Regions from separate parts of the Homo sapiens genome. Here region 2 is linked to region 1. A link means that fine-mapping ties the variant in region 1 to the expression of a gene that starts in the linked region. Tissue or cell type: tibial artery. Region 1 holds a variant in brackets; the other region holds the start of a gene. All regions are shown on one strand. Distances are between the middles of the regions. Region 1 overlaps LOC105374928 (a long non-coding RNA gene). Region 2 holds the start of TMEM170B (transmembrane protein 170B).

Region 1 (12,113 bases):
ATTGGATTATGGAGCCACCCTTCTCCATTATAACCTCATTTTAACTAGTTATGTCTGTAATGACCCTACTGCGAAAGAAGGTCACATTCTGATCTGGGAAGGACATGAATTTGGGGGACCATATTCAACCCAGTGCACTGGGACTTAGATACACTTCTACTCGTTAAGTTGTACAGTTTGGGTGGAACCAGGATTCAGGTACTGTGACCATCAGAGCCTGTCATCATAACTGCTTCACTATTTGATGTGACCACTGGCCCATCGCCTTGCTGCTCCTCCTTCATCCATGTGATCCCGTTTCCAGTCCCAGATTGCCATTGAAACTCTTCTCCTAAAGGACCTCACCTTCTGGATCATCCAGCTTCTTCCTGCCCTAGTGGTGACATCCTCCTCCTTAGCACTCTGCTCCCTTGGTTCTCTGGCCACACTCTGAGTCTCACACTCCAGACCGGGTGTTCCCTCTTGCGCTTGCTCATCTTACTCATCCTATGTCCTAAATGTGGGTGCTTCCCAACTCACATTTCTCTGTCCTTCCCTTCACATTCTTTCTTTCTGAAATCTCTTCCATTCTCAGTTTCAGTTGTAACTTCTATGCCATTGGCTCTCCCTTCTGTGTCAGTCTGTTTCTCCCTGCTGCCCTCTCCCCTAAGCTCCAGCCTCATACCTTCAAACTCCTGCTAGACAAGAAGTCCTACCATCATCTCTAGCCCAGCATGCTCAAGCCAGGTATTTTTCTTCCTTGAAAAGCTTTCATCCTGTCTCACCATATGCACTGACACACATGTCCTGGCCCAAGTCCTTGCTGTCTCATGGAAGGAACACTACAGCAATGCCCTAGTTAACTGGCTTGATGCCAGTCTCCACCCTTCCAGTGTGTCTTGCATAACCTTGACCAACTAATCTCTCCAAACCCAATTTTAATTCTTTTATTCCCTGTGCTCAGCCATTCCCTATGTTCTGCTGCTTCATGTTTACACTCCTCTGACATCTCTTTATCCACCATCTTCACCCAGTATAATTTCCCATGGCTTCAATATGCACTTGTACTCTAGTTAGGCATTGCTTCTCTGCAAAACTGAGCATATTCTCATTTCTGTGCTGTGACTTATGTTATCCACTCAACCCTTTATCCTCTCCAATCTTGCCTCTTCCATCAGGCCCCAGATCAAATCTCACCTCTTCTATGCAGTTTTCTCTACCATTTCAGGTTTCATTCATTTCAGTGGAGCCTCAAGGAAAGAATAACAGAAAAGTGGTCAGAAATGCAGGATGAACTTGCTCTCTCCGTGTCCTCTGTTCTTAGCTTCTATGTTTATATTTGCTCCATCTTTCTCTCTCTCATCTCAGAACTTCTAAAAATCAGCATACACATTACTCTGAGCTGTCCTGTTTTATTAATTGTTGCTTTACGTCTCTTCTCAACTATTTTATCAGACAAGTGAGGGCAAAGGCCACAACTCATCTTTTTTTCCCTTAATAGCTATACCACCTAACACAATATTGAATACTTACTAAACAATTTTCACTTAATTTACTTAATACAATTTCACAATAAGTTGAGTGGAGTTTCTTACAGAAGTGCCAAAAAACTGTTTCTGAAACCTAATGTGTTCTAGACACTAGTTTTCTAAGCCAAAAATATTTCACTGAAGGTAGACAGAGTCTGCAATGTGAAATGTGAAGATAATTTTCTCAATCATATAAGCAAAAATTAGTTTTCAGGATATTTTAGAGTTGTGTTAATTCTCTGCTATCTTCAGTTTTCTAGAAAAATTCTTAAAGCTATAATAAACAAGATAAATTATATTGGTAGTACTGGAAAATTTTTATTTAGCAATGTCAGTGAGTGCTATTCTTTTTGTCTTAATCACTAAATATATGTCACATAAATTTATGCTGAACCCATGCCAAATTTCTGAAAATAGAACTCACTGACATTCAAAAGACAAAAAATACTCAAGTGCTTCATTCCCACAGTATTAAAACTATTGTCTATATTGTAAATAATAGTAAGGCAAACAAAACCTGATTTCTTTTCCGTGAATAACAAGAAGGAATTAGAACTTTTTGAAAATGAATCTGAAAGGCTGGGCACAGTAGCTCACACCTATAATCCCAGCACTTTGTGAGGCAGAGGCGGGTGGATCACCTGAAGTCGGAAGTTTGAGACCAGCCTGACCAACATGGTGAAACCCTGTCTCTACTAAAATACAAAAATTAGCCAGGCGTAGTGGCGGGCGCCTGTAGTCCCAGCTACTTGGGGAGGCTGAGGCAGGAGAATTGCTTGAACCTGGGAGGCAGAGGTTGCAGCGAGTTGAGCTTGCACCACTGCACTCCAGCCTAGACGACAGAATGAGACTCCGTCTCAAAAAAAAAAAAAAGAATCTACAGAAGTCACTGAATGTCAAATCATAATCATTTTCTGACAATCTACTCTCTCTAGTCAGGAAAATATACATAAAAGTTTGACACTGAACTTTTATGAGAGCAGAAATGGTCTAAGTAGTTCTAGGTTCAGCACTTTGGTGAGTGCGCAGGAAGCACCAGAAGTTTACAGCTAAAATGGACTCTATCCAGAATCTGTAAGGAACTTAAAACAACTCAACAAGAAATAAAACAAGTAACCTCATTAAAAAATGGGCAAAGGACATAAACAGACACTTATCAGAAGAAGACATATAAGTGGCCAACAAACATATGAAAAAATGCTCATCATCACTAATTATCAGAGAAATGCAAATCAAAAGCACAGTGAGATACCATCTTACACCATTCAGAATGGCTATTAAAAAGTCAAAAAATAACAGATGCTGGTGAGGCTGTGGAGAAAAGGTAATTGCTTACACGCTGTTGATGGAAATGTAAATTAGTCCAGCCACTATGGAAGACAGTTTGGAGATTTCTTAAAGAACTTAAAACAGAACTACCATTTGACTCAACAATTCCATTACCGGATATATACCCAAAGGAAAAGAAATCATTCTACAAAACAGACACGTGCACTCATATGTTCATCACAGCAGTATTCACAATAGCGAAGACGTAGAATCAACCTAGATGCACATTGATGGTGGACTGGATAAATAAAATGTGGCACATATATACCAGGAAATATTGTGTAGCTGTAAAAAATAATAAAATCATGTCCTTTGCAGCAGCATGGCTGCAGCTGGTGGCCATTATCTTAAGAAAGTGAATGCAGGAACAGAAAACCAAATACTACATGTTCTCACTTATAACTGAGAGCTAAACATTGAGTACACATCAACATAAAGATGGGAATAGTACATACTGGAGACCTCTAGAGGGAAGAGGTAATGGAGCATGGGTTGAAAAATTACCCATCGGATACTATGCTGACTACCTTGGTGATGGAATCATCCATACCCCAAACCTGAGTACCATGCAATACACCCATGTAACAAGGCTGCATTTATACCCCCTGAATCTGAAATAAAAGTTGAAATTATTAAAAATAAATAAAATAAAATGTACCCTCAGATTGAGGGAATAGATAAAAGAGGGGCTATCACCATGGGTGAAGCCAAAAGTATATGGACCATGATTAAGGCTGGTTGGTTGTTTGTAGGAGAAAACCTCCCACAAGCCACATTAATTTTTGTATTATTTGAGCCTTTTTAACAGAAACTCAACTTGACCAAAAAAAAAAAAGAAAGGTTGGGATTTGGGTATTATTATTATTATTTTTGAGACAGAGTCTTCCTCTGTCACCCAGGCCAGAGTGCAGTGGCACAATCTCGGCTCACTGCAACCTCCGCCTCCCGGGTTCAAGTGATTCTCCTGCCTCAGCCTCCCAAGTAGCTGGGACTATAGGCACGCACCACCATGCCTGGCCAATTTTTTGTATTTTTAGTAGAGACAGAGTTTCACCATGTTGGCCAGGCTGGTCTCGAACTCCTGACCTCATGATCCGCCCTCCTTGGCCTTCCAAAGTGCTGGGATTACAGGCGTAAGCCACCATGCCCGACCTGCAGTTGGGTATTATTAATCATTATAATGATTGAGGGGTTTCACAGAATCAAAAGGCAGGAATGAAACTGGAGTTCTGGAAGGAAGTGAAACCAACAACTGACAGCTGACAGAATCCAGGAAGTACGTTTGTACATCTTTGCTTCTCCTTTTTGCATCTTCTCCTATCTTCTTTCTCCTTAAAGACTTCCTTTCTCTGGTCTTCAGGCTACAAAGTGGGCTATGGCTGCAGGACACATGAAGAGACAAACTTTACTCTTGGACTTAATTTAGAAATTCTTGGGTGAGAGCCTAATTGCCCAAGTTAAATCAGATTGCCAGAACTTGAACAATCAACTGTGGCCATGGAACTGATTATCTACTATAAATTTGGTTGCCCAGAGACTGCTTCTGTGGTTTTAACCATAATGTGGAAATGTTCAGTTTTGTGACTTGCCCTAAATTTCATCAGGGGCAAGGGAAGAAAGGAGCATGCACAATAAACTTAATGTGACAGTAGATGACAAAAACAAATTTGTTTCATAATTAATTCCTTGAGTCATGCTTGTTTAACATTAAAGTTACATTTTGGATAGGGGATTGGGAATAGAGTTATTTTCATAAAAGAACAGTCATTATAAGTTTGGCAGATACTTCAGAAATAGATGTCTATTGGAAGTACAATTCGGATATAACTTAAAATTAGAATTTATGTCTTCAGTAAATGAAAATGCAGAAATCATGAAATGAAAGCTAATATTGCCATAGTACATGAATACAAAAGTAACTGAATCTCAAGAAGTCTTGAAAAAAATTACATGCAAGTTAATATTAGGTTGAAAAATGCATTATCCAAATGTTTTTTTCCCCTGTCTCCTATGGTTCTTGTGTGAGATTATACAAATTTTATGACATCATATTCAGAAGATTAGGAAGACCACTAGAGTAATATACTGTGGGCAAAAGAAACTATTTTGGGAAGACTACCTCAAAATGTCACTTTTGGTGATTTCTGGGTTGTGTGATGACAAGGAATTTATTTTTATTTTTATTTTTACTTGATATGTTATTTTTGGAGCTGTTGTTGGTGAAAATCTGTTGCTTTTATAATTTAAAAGGATTATTTTTATAAGAAGAAAAAGAGTACCCCTGCAGTAGAAATATCACTATATTAGTGGAAACAGTGCTTTGATTAGCTGATACTACATTACCAATATGTAAATAGGAAAGGATAACACATCAGATTACCATACCAGACAAAAGCATTGATGAACATTCAGATTCCTTTTGCATAAACTTTTCCATTTGAATATCCAATTGTTTCAGCACCTTTTGTTAAAAAAAATTTTCCTTTGCCCCCAGTATAATTACTTTGGTGCGTCTGTTGAAAATTAATTGAGTGTGTAAGTGTGAGTCTGTTTCCGAGCTCTCTATTCTGTTCCATTGATATTTGTTAGACCTTATGCCAATACCATATACTATCTTGATTAACTTTAGCACATTTTGAATTCAGATAGGGTAAATCTTTCAATTGTCTTTTTCTTTCTCATGTTCATTTGGGTCTTCTAATCCATGAACATAGTATATATCTTCATTTATTTGGGTTTTCCTTAATTTATCTCAACAATGTTTTGTAATTTTTAGTGTAGAAATTTTGTATGGTTTTATTTAATTTATTTGTAAGTATTTTACATATTTCTAATTGCTATTGTAAGTGGATTTTTAAAAATTTTTCAATTGTTTGCTGCTAGTACATAAAAGGACGATTGTGGAGTATTGGCCATGTATCCTGTAATATTGTTAAATTTGCTTATTAGTTCTAGTGGTTGCTTATACGTTCCTTAGAATTTTCTACATCAACAAACATTATATTCTTTATTTCATTTTCTTGCCCTATTTCATAGGCTAGGACTTCTATTACAACATTAAGAGGGTACATCTTTGCCCTGAGTCCAATCTTGAAGGGAATACGGTTAGTCTTTCACCACTAAGCATTATATTAACTATAAGAATTTCATAAATATCCTTTATCAGGTCAAGGAAATTTCCATCTTTTCTTAGTTTACTTAGTGTTTTTTTAGGGTTTTATGTATGTATTTATTTAGATTTAGAAGATACAAGTTCAGTTTTGTTACATAAATATATTGCATAGTGGGGAAGTCTGGGCTTTTAGTGTACCTGTCATCCAAATAGTGAACATTGTACCCAATAGGTAATATTTCAACCCTATCCTCCTCCCACCCTCCCACCTTTACAGTCTCCAGTGTCTATTATTCCACTCTGTATGTTCATGTGTACCCATTGTTTGGTTCCCGCTTAGAAGTGAGAACATGCAGTATTTGACTTTCTGTTTCTGAGTTATTTCACTTAGGACAATGGCCTCTAGTTCAATCCTTGTTGAGCAAAAGACATAATTTCATTCTTTTCTATGGCTGAGACGTAATATATATGTATATATAATATGATATTCTCTTTGTCAAATCATCCATTGATAAATACTTAGGTTGATTACATAACTTTACTATTATGAATAGTACTGTGATAAACATATGAGTGCAGTTGTCTTTTTAGTATAATGATTTATTTTCCTTTGGGTAGATACTTAGTAGTGGGATTGCTGGATCAAATGGTAGTTCTATTTTTAGTTCTTTAAGAAATCTCCATACTGTTTTCCATAGAGGTTGTACTAATTTACATTCCCACCAACAGTATATAAGTGTTCCCTTTCTGCTGTATCCTCATCAGCACTTGTTGGATTTTTGGCTTTTTAATCATGGCCATTCTGGCTAGTGTAAGATGATATCTCACTGTGGTTTTAATTTGCATTTCTCTGATGATTAGTGATGTTGTGCTTTTTTAAAATATGTTTCTGGGTCACTTGTATGTCTTCCTTTGAACATGTTAAGATGTAAACCCAACAAATGAATGTAAACAACCAGATGTGGAACATCTTTGGATTACTTTCTATCCAAACTCTAATTCTGTCTTTATGGCCACATAAAAAAGACGAAATCTACATTGAAATCTCGGTTTGGTGAGTTCACAGTTTCTGCTGCTGGTTGGTAATTTCCTTAACTACCCTTTCCATATTTCTAACAATACACTAA[A/C]ACACCCATTAGTCAATGGTCAATCCTGTGCTTTATTGTAATATTTTATAAAATATATTCCTTCTCCTCACACCTCCTTAACATTTACTTTTTAAAACAACTGGTAACTTAATAATACCTGGTAATTAGATTCATGACATTATGCTCAAAATTACTTTACTAAAATATCCCTAGCTTGCCAACAACAGAAATGGAATGTTCTTTTAATGCTAAATTCTGAAAGGAAAAGTCTTCAAAGAAAGAAAGTTCAAATAGTGGCCACTCAACAGCAGGTTTTTAGTGTTTAATATATTCAGTGAAAGGTCCGTGGGTAAATATTCAGTGATTAAGTGGCCAAAATACAACTCACAGCTTTTCCTCTAAATATCAGATATAAAAAGAAAAACTATTAGGCATTTTCAGTGGTTTTTAGGTACTTGTAGGAAGTTCTGGCTTTATGTATAGCTTTTTTATATATGTGTCTACTGTTAAATTAAGATCCTATTTTATATCAACATTTATGTTAAGCAGTGTAAAGTTACTTGACCTCTGGTCCGTTGAAGTGCTTCTTAGTTGTGGTTTGAGACACTTTCATCCAATTTCATAGCTTTCATTCTCAAACTTCATCAAAAGGAAGAATACACAGGACCTTCAGTAACATGTAGACAGTAAGAAAAAAAAACTTTAAGTGAGATAAATAGGGAGTTTTATACGTGGTGGGTGGAAGCTCTTTGTCTTTTTTTCTGCGTTTTGGCCTTAACCTCCAACAATGAAGGTTGGCAGAGAATGTATCAGGATTGAATAAGTCAGCTGAGTACACATTGGCATGGTGTTCAGTGTAAGCTGTTCTATGACCGAGGCCACCAGTGAACTGCTTTTGACTGTTTAAGAACATTTAGGAACTGTGAGGTACTGTTCTAAGAAAATGTCTTTAAGGTCATGGATAATGTGCCTCATGGTGGAGCACTATTTCTTTATAGTAATTCTCTGTGGTTAATTTAGATTCTAGATTATCTTGCTGAGCCTTGAGGAATTTCCCAGCATTTCAGCATCAAGTATGGTTGTCAACCCTGCGGCTTCCTCAAATCAAAATTTACAATAAATGTAAATATCTTCAATCTCTTTCTGCAATGCAACGCTGCAGTCAAGCTGCCTATTGCAAAGAAGACATCAGAGGTGTGGCCCTGGAGATTTTTTCCAGATGGTCTTTCTGAAAATAGGATACTTTTATGAACAACAATTTATAATTAAATCAAAACATTAATGCACTACAGAGAACAAAAGCTCAACCAGCTATAAAGGTATTCCATCTAACATTTGTGTCAACCTTTATATCATCTAAACACAAAACAATTGCTAGCAAAAACATTTCAAAAGCATCATGCATGCCTGTACATTGTGAATAGCAGATTTCCTTCAGTTCATTTGCCTTTTCTTTGTTGTTCTGAAAGAGGACAGACATTATATTATTGAGCTCTAAAACTCTTGTGATCAACAGAAAAAAAGAACATCTTTAATTGCTCCCAAAGCAATAGATGATCCTCCCACAACAGAAAACTGATTTCGACTTCTGCATATTTAAGGCAGAGGAAGAGCAAGGTGTGGAGATATGTTGGGATTATTTCTCTAAAGTTCTAGTTACCATGATTGCCATTTTGAAAGAAAGTCTACTAGATATAATCTAAGCCAGGTCACACCAGAATTCCTTGTTCATTTCCCACTTCTCAGTTATTGTAGTGTGACATTTCACAGCCAAACTTCCTGCATCAGCTTCAGGAGGGAGAAATCCCACATCCTTCTCTCTGGCCCTGAGATTCATCAGTGAGCCTAACCAATACCGGTGATTGCTTTTTCTCAGCTATGTCCTCCATATTAGCGACAGTAGGAAAGAAGTGAATCTCTCACTTCCCCGTTTCTTCCCAGTGCAGCTCTTGTAGATCTCAAGCACCTGTTTCTGTTGTGTTTTCAAACTGAATAATGTGTTTCAAAGAACTTTCTCAGGACTGCCTCACCAGAAAGTACCCTGAACTCCAGCAGTGCTTAAACATTAAAAGGAGAAAAGAAACCCTTTGAGATTTGGTCAGCCTCATTTTCATCCAAAGGTGTATTTTGTAAAAACCAAACTTCAAATAAAAATGTTAAGTGATCTTTGTTTTTATTCTCTTCAAAGTTTAGGGGTGAAATGCCTTCATTTTGTTCTTCACTTTCTTCTTCGGCATTGGAGTTCTGTGTATTGCTGTTGTTTCTTTATTGGTTTGTTTCTATTCAGGAGTTTCATCATTTTTTCCATTTGTGTCCTGATTTAATTATCACAATTATCTTATTTATTTTCAATGTCCACCATGTGGATTGTTCAGATGACCAGTAAAATCAACCATTGCTGGCATAGCATAATTGCAAATAACTCTTCTGTAAGTACTAGTTTTATAAATCATAGAGTTCTCAAAGTGTTTGACAATAATGTTTACTCAGCCAATCAGGTGTTTTACCTTGTAAGTTAATTTTTCTACATTTCTTCACCCACCTCAGGCTTCTTTCAAGGTCTTGTAGTAACCTGAAGGCCAGATTGGGCTTCATTTTCTTCCATGTGCAGTTGGGAACTGCATACAAGTTTGATGTTGTAGCCCTACCAGCAAGCTAGCCCGCACTCCCTACCCGCAAACTCAGGCCCTCCTGCCTTCCTGTTAGTGATGGGGAAAGAAAATCAACTTAACATGACTCGTGTTTTCATTTTCTTTATTTGAAATGTCTGTGTCAAGTTTAGTATCAGGATCAGGCTGACTTCATAAAATGCACTGGGATGTGTTTCTTCCTCCTGGGTTTCTGAAAGCATTTGTGTAAAATTGTTATTTTTTTCTTACCTAAATGTTTAACAGAGTTCAGAGGGAGATTTTGATAACAAATTCAATTTCTTTTATATATATAGGACTAGTTAAGAATTTTTATTTCATCTTGTGTCAGTTTAGTAAGTTGTATTGTTCAGAAAATATGTCCATTCCTTCTAAGTTGTTGAATTTATTAGCATACACTTGTTCATGTTTGTTGGATCTGTAATATATTCACATACTTATTCCTGATATTGGTGATTTCTCTTTTCTTCTGCATGTCAAACTTTAATGTCATTTCCCCTAGAAAAACCCCAAAATGTTTTATACCTATTAATTTCCTCTATCATTTGTCTGTTTTCTGTTTCATACTTTCCTCCTCTTATAATATCTTTATTGTTTCCTTCCTTCTACTTTCTTTGTTTTTGTTGTTATTGTTGTTGTCTTGAGGCAGAGTCTCACTCTGCAGCCCAGGCTGGAGTGCAGTGGCAAGATCTCACCTCACTGCAACCTCCAACCCCCAGGTTCAAGAGATTCTTCTGCCTCAGCCTCCCAAGTAGCTGAGACTACAGGCATGTGCCACCACGCCCGGCTAATTTTTGTATTTTTAGTAGAGACAGGGTTTCAACATATTGGCCAGGCTGGTCTCAAACTCCTGACCTCAAGTGATCCTCCCACCTTGGCTTCCCAAAGTGCTGGGATTAGAGGCATGAGCCACCACACCCGGCCCCTCTACTTACTTTGGATTTACTTTTCTCTTCTTTCTCTGGATCTTACTGTGGAAACAAAGGTCATTCATTGTATACCTTTCTTCCTTCCTATCCTAAGCATTTAAAAGGTATAAATTTCTCTTTTAGCACTACTTTAGCTGTATTCCACAAATTTTGATATATTTTCATTATCATTCAGTTTGAAATAGTTTTAATATGTCTTATGACTTTTTTCTTTGACCCATGGATTATAGACAATATGTGTTTAAATTTCCAGATATGTGAATTTTATCCTCCTTTGACATCTTATTGTTTTTGGTTTCTAATTTAATTCCACTGTGGTCCAAAAACATTGTCTGCATTATTTTAATCTTTAAAATGCGCTGAGACTTGTTTCATGGCCCAGCATTTCGTTTATCTTGGTAAACATTACATGTTACTTGAAGATAATGTTTATTCCGCAATTGTTGGGTGTAGTGTTCTATAAATGTCAATTAGGTAAAGGAGAGTGAAGGCATTATTCAGATCTTTTATCTACTTGTTCTGCCAATTGCTGTTATTAAATGTTAAAATCTCCAACTATATTACATAAGCAGAATAGGCACAAAAAATCTCCAACTATCATTGTGGAGTTGTCTCTTTCTCCCTTTAATTATGTTACTCTTTCATGTCACGTATCCTAAACCTGTTTTATTAGGCCCATATACATGTATAATTATTGTGTCTTTATGCAAATTTATTCATTATTACAGTATGTCTGTTTTTACTTTTTGTCTTGTGGCATCTATTACATCTGATATTAATATAGCCAATCCAGCCCTCTTAGGCTTACAGTTTGCATAATAAATCTTTTCCTGTCATTTGCTTTCAACATATCTGTATTTTTATATTTAAAGTTCATCTCTAATGGAGAAACTATGTTGAATCTTACTCATTTATCTCCTTTGAGAATTTATGAATTCTAATTGGAGCATTTAGTTCATTTCCATTTAATTGAATTATTGACAGAGTTGAGTTTAGACCAACAGTTTTACTACTATTTTCTGTTGGTCCTGCCTGCTTTTTGTTTTTAAATTCTGTTACTACTTTCTCAATTTTTTTTGTTTAATTCAATTTTTTTGAGAATTATTTTTTAATGAATTGTTGGCTTTTTAGTTATATAACTTTATATTGTTTCAAGTGGTTGCTCTAGGGGTCATAGTTTACATTCTTGATTTTTCACAGCCTACTTAGATTTAATATTGGACCATTTTGTGTAAAGCAGAATCTTTCTGAAAATAGAGGTTCATTTACTTCTTCTGTTTTGGTTGTCATATGTACTTCATCTAAAAATGTTATCAATCCCACAATACAATGTGGGGTTTAAAGCAAATATAGATTTTTCTTTAGTCATGTTTATTTATAACAAATTAGGAGAAAGGGACAAATCTTAATATTTAGCCACCTATATATCATTTGGGGCACTGCATTGTTTTCTAAAGACTGAGTGTCCACCTGGCATTAATTCCTTTTGCCTAAAGAAC
Region 2 (12,113 bases), 20 kb before region 1:
AGTTTCATTTCCAAGTTTATGATGACGAAAAAATGCCTTCTGAGTTAACATATGTGTTATCATATTATGAAAAAAGATAATGACTTTTTCACTATTAGCTATCAGATCTAAGCAAGTTACTCTTTGCTTCAGTATCTGAATCTGTAAAATAAGAACAATAATCTCTCAGGATTGCCTAAAAGATTAAACAAAATATATGAAAGCATTATACCCAACACAGAAAACTACTCTCAATAAGCATTTGCATGTTTTAAAGGTATGTATAAAAATGATTTATATGAGTTGCTTAAACACTTCATTCTTCCTTAACAGCATATTCACTCCAAGAGATGCAGATGAGAAACAATGCAATATAGAATGTTTAAATCAAGCAACTGTTAAAATTTTAAAAATTCATCTCAATAAACATATATTTATCATTTACTACGTGCCAGGTACTATAATGCTAGGGTATAAGAATTCAAAGGTGAGGCAATGGACTGACCCTCAAAAAGCTCACAGTCTAGAAGAGATAAATACAAATTATAACGTAATTGAAAAACATAATAAAAATATGTACAAAGAGCAGAAGTAGCAAGATGAAGCAAGAAATTAATTTTGCGTGAAGAAAGTAAGGAGGAAGTAGCTGAAGTAGCATGGTAAAGAAGAAAGAGGAGTCTAGAGGCAAAGACTTGGGTCTAAAGCCCAGCTCAGTCATATACTAGCTATAAGATTTGGGACAATTTAATTTACCTCTCTGAGTTTCCTTTCAAATGTACTTTGAAGAGTTATTCTGAAGATTAGAAATAATATATGTAAAGTGCCTAACACACAGCGGCCATTCAACAAATGACAGATGTTTCAGAAGTTGTGTTTACTCGCCTCTTTTGAGCAGACAAAGTTGTAAATGGCACTGTAGGCAGCATCTGTTAACTAATGATTAAGATACACACCAAATCACTAAGGTCACTGGCATGGAGAAGGCCACAATGAATCCCATCAGAATATTATCACTTATAGACTGCCACTGTTGAGAAGAGATGTGGTTCCTAACGTGGTACACTCTACCACTAGTGAAACATATTTCTAATCTGTTTCTTTCTGCATTTTTATCCTGACGCCTAGAATTTCACATATTCAGACAGTAGTTATTTCCTAGTAGAGGTTCCCATGGTCCTCAGTCCCGCCTCAGTCCTAGTTTGGGATGTTCGGCATATCCTTTATGAAATGGCAAGGTCCAATGAGCAACTGGCAAGTATTAAGATCATATTGAAAGACATATTGGAGCTAACCCTGGATGAATAACTACTATTATCAGCTTAATGGTTGACTTGCAGAACTGGAGGCAATTATAATCATTAGAATCTTACTTATTTAAAAATATTGTTGAAGCTGGCCAGGAGTTAAGTTACATTTACATTTACTCTATGGCTCCCAAAGCTAACTTTCTCTAAAAACCCTTTGATGAGCTAATCCAGTGATTAATATCTACAGGCATACCTTGTTTTATTGTACTTCACTTTATTTTGGCTTTTACAAATGGTAAGTTTGAGGCAACTCTGTGTCAAGCAAGTCTATCAGTACCATTTTTCCAACAGCATGGGCTCACTTTGTGTCACATTTTGGTAATTCTAACAATATTTCAAATTTTATTATCTTATTATTATTTTATTATTGTATTTTATTATTATAGTGATCTGTGATAAGTGATCTCTGATGTTACTATTTTACTCGATAATTTACTCGATAAATCTTGTGTGTTCTCACTGCTCCACCAACCAGCCATTCCTCAGTCTCTCTCCCTCTCCTCGGGTTTCCCTATTCCCTGAGATACAACAATATTGAAATCAGGCCAACTAATAATCCTACATTGGCCTCTGAGTGTTCAAGTGAAAAAAAGAGTCAGATATCTCACTTTAAATCAAGTGCTAGAGATGATAAAGCTTAATGAGGAAGGCACGTTCAAAGATGAGTTAGGCTGAAAGCTAGGCCTCTCGTACCAAACAGCCAAGTTGCAAATGCAAAGAAAAATTCTTAAAGGAAATTAAAAGTGTTACACTAGTGAACACACAAATCATAAGAAAGCAAAACAGACTGCTCTCTGATATGAAGAAAGTTTGAGTGGTCTAAATAGAAGATGAAACCAGCTACAACACTCCCCTAAGCCAAAGCCTAACCCAGAGAAAGACCCCAACTCTCTTCAATTCCATGCAGGCTGGGATGTGAGAAAGCTGCAAAAGAAAGTTTGATACTAGCAGATGTCAGTTCTTTAGGTTTAACAAAAGACACCTCTATAACATAAAAGTGCAAGGTGAAGCAGCAAATGCTGATGTAGAAGCACAAATTATCCAGAAGATCTAGCTAACTGATGAAGGTGGCTACCCCAAACAACAGATATTCCATGTAGATTAAACAGCCTTATATCAGAAGAAGATGCCATTTAGGACTTGCACAGCTAGAGAGAAGTCAATCCCTGACTTCCAAGCTTCAAAGGACAGGCTGACTCTTCTTAGGAGCTAATGCAGCTGGTGACTTTATATTAAAGCCAATGCTCATTTACCATTCTGGCGCCCTTGAGAATTATGCTAAATCTACCCTGGCTGTGCTCTATAAATGAAACAAAAAAGCCTGGATGACAGTACATCAGTTTACAGCACGGCCTACTGAATATGTGAAGCCCACTGTTGAGAACTGCTCAGAAAAAAAAAAGATTCCTTTCATTTTAATGAGTATTTTCTTCAATGACAATGTACCTGGTCAACCAAGAGCTGTGATGGAGATGTCCAAGTAGATCAATGTTGTTTTCATGACTGCTAACACAACATCCATTCTGCAGACCATGGATCAAAGAGTAATTTTGACTTTCTAGTCTTATTATTTAAGAAATACACTGTGTAAGAAGGCTAAAACTGCCAGAGATAGTGATTCCTCTGATGGACCTGGGCAAAGGAAATTGAAAACCTTCTGGAAAGGAGTCACCATTCCAGATGCCCTTAAGAACAATCGTGACTCATGAGAAGAGGTCCAAATATCAACTTTCATAGGAGTTGGAAAGCAATTGACTCCATTCCTCATGGATGACTTTGAGGGGATCAACACTTTAGTGGAGGAAGTAACCATAGGTGTGGTCGAAATAGCAAGAGAACTAGAATTAGAAGTGGAGCCTGAAGATGTGACTGAATTGTTGCAATCTCATGATAAAGTTTGAATGGATGAGGAGTTGCTTCTTATGGATGAGCAAAGAAAGTGGTTTCTTGAGATGCAATCTACTCCTGGTGAAGATCATGTGAACACCGTGGAAATGACAACAAAGGATTTAGACTATTAGATAAACTCGGTTGATAAAGCCGCAGCAGGGTTTGAAAGGACTGACTCCAATTTTGAAAGTTCTACTGTGGATAAAATGCTACCCAACAGCATCCCATGCTACAGAGAAATCTTTCATGAAAGGAAGAGTCTATTGCTCTTCCTTAGTGGCAAACTTCATTGCTGTTTTAAGAAAACTGCCATCATCCCAATCTCCAGCAATCATCACCTTGATCAGTCAGCAGTCATCAACACAAAGACAAGACCCTCTACCAGAAAAAAGATAACGTCCTTGCTGAAGGCTCAGATGATCGTTAGCAATTTTTCAGCAATAAAGTATTTTTAAATTAACGTCTGTACTTTTTTTTCAGACATAATGCTATTTCACATTTAAAGACTACAGGTAAAATGTAACTTTTACATGCACTAGGAAAACAAAAAATTCATTTGGCTCACTTTATTGCAATATTTGCTTTATTGTGGTGTTCTGGAACCAAACCTGCAATCTTTCCAAGGTATGCCTGCACAAATATATGTTAAGTCCCTACTTTTCATTTCACTTAAACAAAAACTGGTACAGTTCAAATACCAAACAGTGGATAAATGCAAGCAAAATCATAAGTAAGATAAAGCAGTCTACCTCTAAATTCAACTGAATCATGAGATGGTCTTTATGTCCATTTAGTTTTCCAGAATTATAACAATATATTCCTTACCGGCAATCATCATGTAAAGTCAGTCTGTTTCAAGTTAAATAACCACAGCTTAAAAGTGAGGATAGCATGAAGCAATCCAGAATCTACTTTAACTGTATAGTTTCCATTCGAAGAAACCAGTGTCCTTAAAGTTGTCTTTTGTGGTATATAATTCCATAAAATTTTCTTCTATGAATGTTTGTATTCTATACCATGCCAGACTTTATATATATGTTATATATATGAACCCAGGTTATATTTGTAAAATACTCACAACACTTTAACCAGTTTGACAAAATGCATTTTGAAATACTAATGTTCTACTGAAATTAACTGCCTTACACATTTTCAAGAATTAAATTCTGAGTATTTTTTTAAGATTTTTTTCCTCTGAAAAGCAGGCACTGAGGAGTCACCAAATCGCAACTGAATCTCTTTCTCGTAAATTCTACTTCAGAGAATAATTTTTAAATTCGGAACTCAAAGTATAATGTAAGCATTTCCACATAACAAAACCAGAAGTTTCTTCACAAAGCAAATCTACAGACTGAATAAAAATATTGTGTGTTTTATCACTCACTTTTACAAATAGAAATTGATGTTATAAGGCCAATTACTGACAGCCTTAATAAATGAAGGGAAATACACAAAATTATCAAATGTCTCAGAAGCAGCAGCTGGAGGCCTGAGGGAAAGAGACAGACAGACAAAAGGAAATGGGAGGGGAAGGAGATATATGAAGCTAACACGCTTAGACCGCACTAGACCTTAGCTCAGCCCCTGACCCACTATAATTTACTCAGTTATCTACATCGCCCAAAAAATTAGCGGTTGAAAAAGTAAATCGACCATTGTGGGCAATGATTTTAGGTTCTACATTTGGCTTGAGATTTGCCAGAAAGAAAAAGAACTAAATCAGAAAAAGATGTAAATAGCAAGAAGCGATGTGTGTAGAAGGGGGAGGGGAGGAGGGTAATGGAATAAAAGCGAAATGCGCTCAAGTCTCAGCACTAAAGCTACTCCGCGCGTACTACAGAGGCCGGGCCGCCACCGGGAGCTCTCCCCGTGCGGGGCAGGAGCGGGGGTCGCTGATGCTCCCCTGGCGACTCAGGGAAGGGGGTGGCGGGAGCCGGCGCCCCCGGGACACGCGCAGAGTGGCTCCGATTAACACCTTCCTCGCCGGGACCTGGAGCTCCGAGCGGGGCGCGCACGGGGGTGGGGCGGCGAGGAGCGTGTCCCCTCCCGAGGAAGGAGAAGACAGGAGAGGGGCGGACCGCATCCCCGTCCCCAGCCCAGGCGCGTCAATTACCCGTGAGGTTCCTCAGCACCGTCCCGTGGGCCCAGAGGCTCAGGACCTGCTGCACCGACAGGTTGATCATGGAGTGGTCGCCCCCCTCCGCCTTCATCTTCCCCGAGGGGCGCCCGCCGCCCTCTCCTCGGGTGCCGGGCGGCGGCGGCGGCTGCGAGGCTCGGGGGGCGGCGGCGGGTGCGCGGCTCCTCCAGGCCGCCGCCGCTGGTGGAGGCTGCGGGACGCCGGGCCGGGCGCTGCTGCTGCTGCAGCCGGAGGGCCTCCGTGGGGGGGCCGCTCAGCGTGTCTCCCAGGCAGCCCCCTCCCCGCCGGGGAGACATTGAGGACGGCGGACGGAGGAAGGAGGGGAGGGGGCCGGGCGCCGTCCTCGCGCGGCCCCCGAGCGAGGACTCGGGGCGGAGGAGGCCGCCGCCGCTCCCTCTCAGGGGCAGCGCCGCGCCGCGGGGACTGGACACGCGAGGAGGCCGAGGTCACGCCAGGAGGCCGGTGCTGATGGGCAGCCGGCAGGTGCAGCCCCCGACAGGGCCCAGCTCATCGCCGCCGGAGGACGGAGACGCGGGACCAGCCAGAGGCTGCGGCGGCACCTGCCGCCCGCCTGCCCGCCCTCGGGTCGCCGACACTCGAGGAACCGCCCCCTCCACCCGCAGCCGCCGGCGGGCCACTCGTGCACGCGCACGCGCGCGCCTCTCAGCGCCGGCCCCTCCTCCCCTGCGCTCCCCGGAGCCGCTGCGCATGCTCACTCCCCCGCTCCCCGCGACCCGCCGCCCTCCAACAGCCGGTCGGCCCCAAAGCCCTCCTTCTCGCTCTCCCCTCGCGCTGCAGCGCGCGTGGCTGACGGCGCCGAGCGACGGCCCGCAGTGGGGCGGAGGGAAGCGCGGTCTACGTCACTGGCGCCACCGCCGGGCCTTACTGCTGATTGGGCGCTCCAAGGGAACCGCCTCCACGCCCCCCACCCCCGGACCCCGGGCGCGCGCCCTGAGAGACCGGGAGACCTGGATCCCTCGCCCTGGCCCGGCTGGGTGCGCGCGGTGCGGGCGGCGTGGGCGGTGCGGGCATTTCGGGGGCCCGCGCTGCAGGGGCAGCCCTGACCCAAGGTGGGGCTGCTGAACTCGGTGAGGTGGATACTGTGACAGTTCAGATTTTTGCCTTAAAATGTAATGCTTTTTGATAAAGATGCTTATGTATAACTTTTTTAAAAAGGTGTCACTATCTCAGCATTTAGATATATTAATTTGCGGGGTTTTTTTTCTGAGCCTGAATCGAATGACCTGGATAGGTCACTTACTTGCAGAATGCATGTTAAAACCCCTAAAACACAAACAGACCTGCGTTATCATTCTGCTAATCCCTCTTCCCGCAGCAAGAACTTGGGCCTCCCGGGGTTCCAGGACCTGCCTGACATTACCTGTTTACTCCAGGCTCGGCAGGTGTCCTAATCCTCAAGGCCATCGCCGGCTCTAGCCCCCCTTTTTTTGATGGTAGTATTCTTTTATCTAAGTTGCGTCTGTTATTTTTTTCCCTCGAACTTAAACTAGATCTCTCTCCCCACGCTTTGCTGTCTGTCTTCATGTCCAGCGTTAGCCAGAGGAGCATCTAAAATCCAACTACAAGTTAAACTCCTCGAAATTGGAAACCTTCTAACTTTAAAAAATAAAAATTTAAGTTTTAGCAGTAACATAAATATGCAGTAGCCAGCCCCTCCCCCCACCTTTTTTCAACCCCTCTGCCATCTGGATAAAGAAAAATTTACAAAGAGAAGTGAAGAAATACCTGCTGTAGCTAAATCATGAAGTATATTTGACAAAGCACTGAAGGGTCAAATTACCTGTCAAATGGTGCTCTTGGTGACCACTTTAAAATAATATTTACATACACATTTATTTCTTTGTTTATTTGTATTTTCTTTTTGATGTCACAACATAAGAGAAATTTTTGCACCATTAATAGGAATTGAGCCAAAACTCTTAATGTAGAGTTTATCTTCCTCCTAGAATTTAGACTTAATTAGATCTATTAACAAGATTACAGAATATCAAACCTAAAAGAGCGCTTTAACATTTTTCTAATTTTATTTTACAGATAGGGAAACAGATTCTGTGAATTAAGTGACTTGACAGAGATGACAGCACTTCACAGCTCAGTTTCTGAATTCCTGGTCTATTATTCTTTCTAGCAACCACATTATCTTTCTTAACCCACTGTTAACTCCCTCACTTTAAGATTCTTGATGGGGAAGTGCAGGTTACCTAATGATATTCTTAAGGGACTTGGCATTACATAATTAGTGATGTTAGGGAATGTGACCACATTCAGTGAAGGGTTCACAGCAAACTCCCTGAGCAGGGGCTCATTAAACTCTCATATCAGAAACCTTTAGTTAGTTTACGTTCTTAGGATTGCACACTATTATTTAAAACACAGTAGCACGCAGTGAAAATATTCAGAACCTGGGACAGTGCCTGGCACCTGCACCACAAATATTTGTTGAATGAATCACTGAATGATCTTCATAGAAAAGTCAGCATTGTTCTTGTTCTGAATAAATATTTTTTACAGAATCCAAGTGTTCATGTCAGGAAATGAGAAAGACACAGCAATGAAGTCTCAAGTCAGTAATGTTATTTGCTGCCCAACAACTTCACCCCTGCTGTTCAGTTCAATTTAATTGGCGTCTATATTTATTTGGCATCTACTATCTGTAATGTTCTGTGCAAGGTGTTATCTGTAACATTTGAAGATAAGATCTCTACTCTCTAGGCTACTTAGGTTTTCCTTGATAAAAGTAATGATCTTGACTGTGTTGGAAGCTTATATCCTTAAGAGAATTAGACATTTTCCCAACAGCCAGAGTTATGAAACCCAAAACTGAGTTAATACAAATGAAAGTTTTGGAATTTCTTTCCTACAGATTTTTTATTTTGAATTAATACACCAATTCAGGAAGAGTTTAGTCACGTTCCTGTCAGAAATCAGGGACCACCCCAAGTGAATCCAAAAATTTCCTTTCAACTCTGTGCCCTTCAGCATGAAACAATTCACAAACGTAATTCATAAACCAAAATTCCTGGTTTATTTCTCTCATGTAAGTGAGGGAACACCCATTAGCCTTAGTCATTTTTAAAACTGTCCAGAGACAACCTAGAGGAAAGCTTTTTAAAATCAATTAAAATATAAAATGATATTGATCTTTTGAGAAAAACATTTTCAGGTATCTTTTCAGAAGCACCCCACTCTACTGGTATCAACTTAACGTATTAGTCCATTTTCACGCTGCAGATAAAGACATACCCAAAACTGGGCAATTTATAAAGGAAGAGGTTTAATTGGACTTACAGTTCCATGTGACTGGGGAAGCCTCACAATCATGGTGGAAGGCAAGGAGGAGCAAGTCCCGTCTTACATGGGTGGCAGCAGGCAACGAGAGAATGAGGAAGACGCAAAAGTGGAGACCCTTGATAAAACCATACAGAGCCAAATTATATCATTCCTCCCCTGGTCCCTGCCAACTCTCATGTCCTCACATTTCAAAATCAATCATGCCTTCCCAACAGTTCCCCAAGGTCTTAACTCATTTCAGCATCAACTCAATAGTCCACAGTCCAAAGTCTCATCTGAAACAAGGCTAGTCCCTTCCGCCTATAAGCCTGTAAAATCAAAAGCAAGTTAGTTACTTCCTAGATACAATGGGGGTACACGCATTGGATAAATACAGCCATTCCGAATGGGAGACATTGGCCACAACAAAGGAGCTACAGGCCCCATGCAAGTCCAAAATCTAGACTGATTCAGCTTGATTCAGCTCAGTCCAGCTCCACAGGTCTTCTCATTTCATACCTGAGGCTGAGGAAGATGTCACGCTCTGAGTACATGCCATTCTCATGGTATAGGGCTGGAACCAGGGCTACAATGGGACACTGGCCTTGCCTGCAAAGCCTTGCCTGCAAGTCTTGACAACAGACTCTGAAACACTCTGTTATCAAGATAAATAATATACTAATATAATATTTTTAAAAATAAAAATTCATGCAAAAATCCATGATTAATGAAATACCAAAATTTTAAATAAACACAGAATCTCACCCTGCACTTGCAAGACCTTGTCTCACCCACCTCATCCTTATCCCAGCTCTGGCATGGACAAGAGAGGCAGGGCTAAACTACACAGGTGCATTTAAAGTTCATGCTCAGATATGGGGTCCATGTCACATGCATGTCACATATCCACATTCCCTTGTTTGAAGCAGATTGCATAGTTAAGCCCCTAAGTGAATGGGATAAAAAAGTATATTCTGCCTACAGAGAAGGATGGAAAGAATGAATGGGAGGGGGCAACAAATGGTAATGAACAAATAATGCAGTCTTAACACAGGCTGAGTGAGGTTAAGTCTTCTACAAATAATATATTTCAGCCTATATTTCTGTGTACTTTTTGTAGTTTGCGCTTTACGAATTTTGATTCTATGTGTTTTAGTGAACACATATGTATGTAAGATTTGTGATTTTGCTTTCTTAAATTAAAAATATATTAATTTCCATTATAAAATGCTTTTAAAATTTATGTGAATCTTGTCTGATGTTAAGGTCTTAAGTCCTGCTTTCTGTTTGCATTTGCCTGATATGTATTTTTCCATTCTTTTTCAACTTTGAATAATTTTGTTTTAGGAGTTTGACATCGTATTCCAATATGAAATTTCTAATTTAATAGAAGAACTTCTAGATAATTTCTAGTCGTTGATATAATAAATATGTGGTATTACTTGCATCATAGTTATATTATTATTTCTATTTTTGTTGCTTCTTTTAAAAAAGTATTTCATGGGTATGGTTTGTGTTTCCTTTGCTTTGTTTATGTTCCTTATAATTTGAAAGGATTGGTTTTGTTTTTGTATTTTATAGTAATCTCTGTGACCATAACTGATATACACTTCATCCTCTGTTTAGAATGTATCTAGTGACCATCCACTCTCAGCAATCCTAAAATCATATAACTCCACTTCCTTATAACCTCCTTTTCCTCCCCTTCTCCATCAGATTTAAGAGTATATATTTTTTTCTATTTCTTACTTCTACAGCTAAACTACCTAAGTTTTAATCCTGATTTTATTGCTTTACCAGGAGTGAACATTCAACATTCAGTGAGTTACTTAACCTCTGTAACTTTCAGTTTTCTCCTCTGTAAAATTTGAACTATAATATTCTATTATATGTATAATATATCTGTTATTCATTATAGATAGTATATATTTAATTATAATATTTCCTTGAGATATTCTGAGGATCAAAGTACTTAGTAATTAAGTGCTTAGAGTGGAGTCTGGAGCAGTAAATACTCAATGAATACTAGTTTTTATTACTGTAATATTTAAATATTAATAGATTTTTTAGAACTGTATGGAAATGGCAATCTTCTAAATAATTATTTATTTTAAAGAACAAGCAGAAAGAAATTGTGAAGGATTTTCTTGATGGGCAAGAATCTACCTCTTTCCCACCTTTTTTTTTTTTTAGTGTGATGAATTCATATGACTCAAAACTCTCATGATATGACGTGCAATCAGTGAAAATTCTCCCCCGACCCCTGGCTCCCAGCCACTTAGATCCATGCTGTCTGGGAGTCACCTGCCCTTCCTGGGCCATAACACTGTTTCCTTTAGTAAAAGTGTGGAAAGTGATGTTTGGGCATGAAGAAATAATTTAATGTAGGGTGGAAACTATAGTATTAAGGAAAGGTAAGTGATAAAATTGAGAATACAGGAGAAATGAAAGTTTAGTGACAAATGCCCATTAAAAATAGCCCTATTCTTCTCCCAAACCTAGACCATTTACTAAACATTGGTAAGAAAATGGGTTTCAGGGGCTCCCAACTGTATGCAGCATTTTAGTTAGGGAAAGAGTATTAGTCAGGATTCTCCCAGAGAAACAGAACTAATAGGTTGCCTATGTATAGAAAGACATTTATTATGAGAAGTTGGCTCACACGATTATGGAGGCTGACAAATCCCAGGATCTGCAGGGTGAGTTGGCAAGCTGGCGATCCAGGAGAGCCAATAGTGTAGTTCCAGTCTGAGACTGCATTGCCTGAGAACTAGGAGAGCAATGTTTCCGTTCAGACACTTAGGCAAGAATTCTGCCTGCCTTGGGGGAGCCTTTTTACTCTATTCAAGTCTTCAGCTGATTGGATGAGGCACCCACATGAGGGAGGGCAGTCTGCTTTATTTCATCCACCAATGTAGATGTTACTCTCACCTAAAAACACTCTCACAGAAACACCCCAAATAATGTTTGACCAAATAACTGGATATTCCATGGCCCAGTCATGTTGACACATAAAATTAACCATAATTCTATTTAACACACAAAATTAACCATCTGAGAAATTCAGGAGATTTGAAGACACCTGGGTTATACAGTATGTTCAACAGAAGGCACGACCCTCCTATTATTGAAAGAAGCTTTGAAATGAGAAGTGGAGTTGTCATGAACAGCTTGAAAACTATCATTTATTTAACACTTTCTATCTTTCACATACCAGTCTGTAAACTGTTAACCCTCACAACACCCTTTTAAGGTTGTGCTGTTATTAGCTTCACTTTTCAAATAAGGAAATTGTGGCTCTGGGCAGCCAGTAACCTGCCAAGGTCACCTAGCCCAATACTGTCTGAATCCAAATCCCCAAAATTTAACCATTACTTCCTCAATTTGCCCCTTGTTTTAATAAGACTTCTGAGGCTCAAAACTTACAGGAACTTTAGATCTGCTTGTTGAATGACTTTTGAGGCATAGATACTCACTGTTCACTAAAATCTCTTCTTCCTGGGCATACA

What was found. PIP is the estimated chance that this variant, and not a neighbour inherited with it, causes the effect.
Region 2: it holds the start of TMEM170B, and the variant in region 1 is fine-mapped to the expression of TMEM170B in tibial artery (GTEx, PIP 0.99).

The regions. Positions count from the first base shown.
Region 1 is chr6:11,511,747-11,523,859 of GRCh38, reverse strand. It overlaps LOC105374928 (a long non-coding RNA gene), which reads right to left. Exons shown (of 5, transcript NR_187824.1): 5 at 1-1,229. It also overlaps the pseudogene THAP12P5. Among named protein-coding and RNA genes, the nearest start is that of TMEM170B, 20 kb to the left of the region's middle. RefSeq lists an enhancer at 8,758-8,807. The variant A/C (reference allele first, on the strand shown) is at 7,077.
Region 2 is chr6:11,531,551-11,543,663 of GRCh38, reverse strand. It overlaps TMEM170B (transmembrane protein 170B), which reads right to left and starts at 5,915. Exons shown (of 3, transcript NM_001100829.3): 1 at 5,290-5,915. The coding sequence starts at 5,386. RefSeq lists silencers at 4,962-5,241, 5,252-5,331, 5,432-5,591, 5,622-6,451 and an enhancer at 5,121-5,622.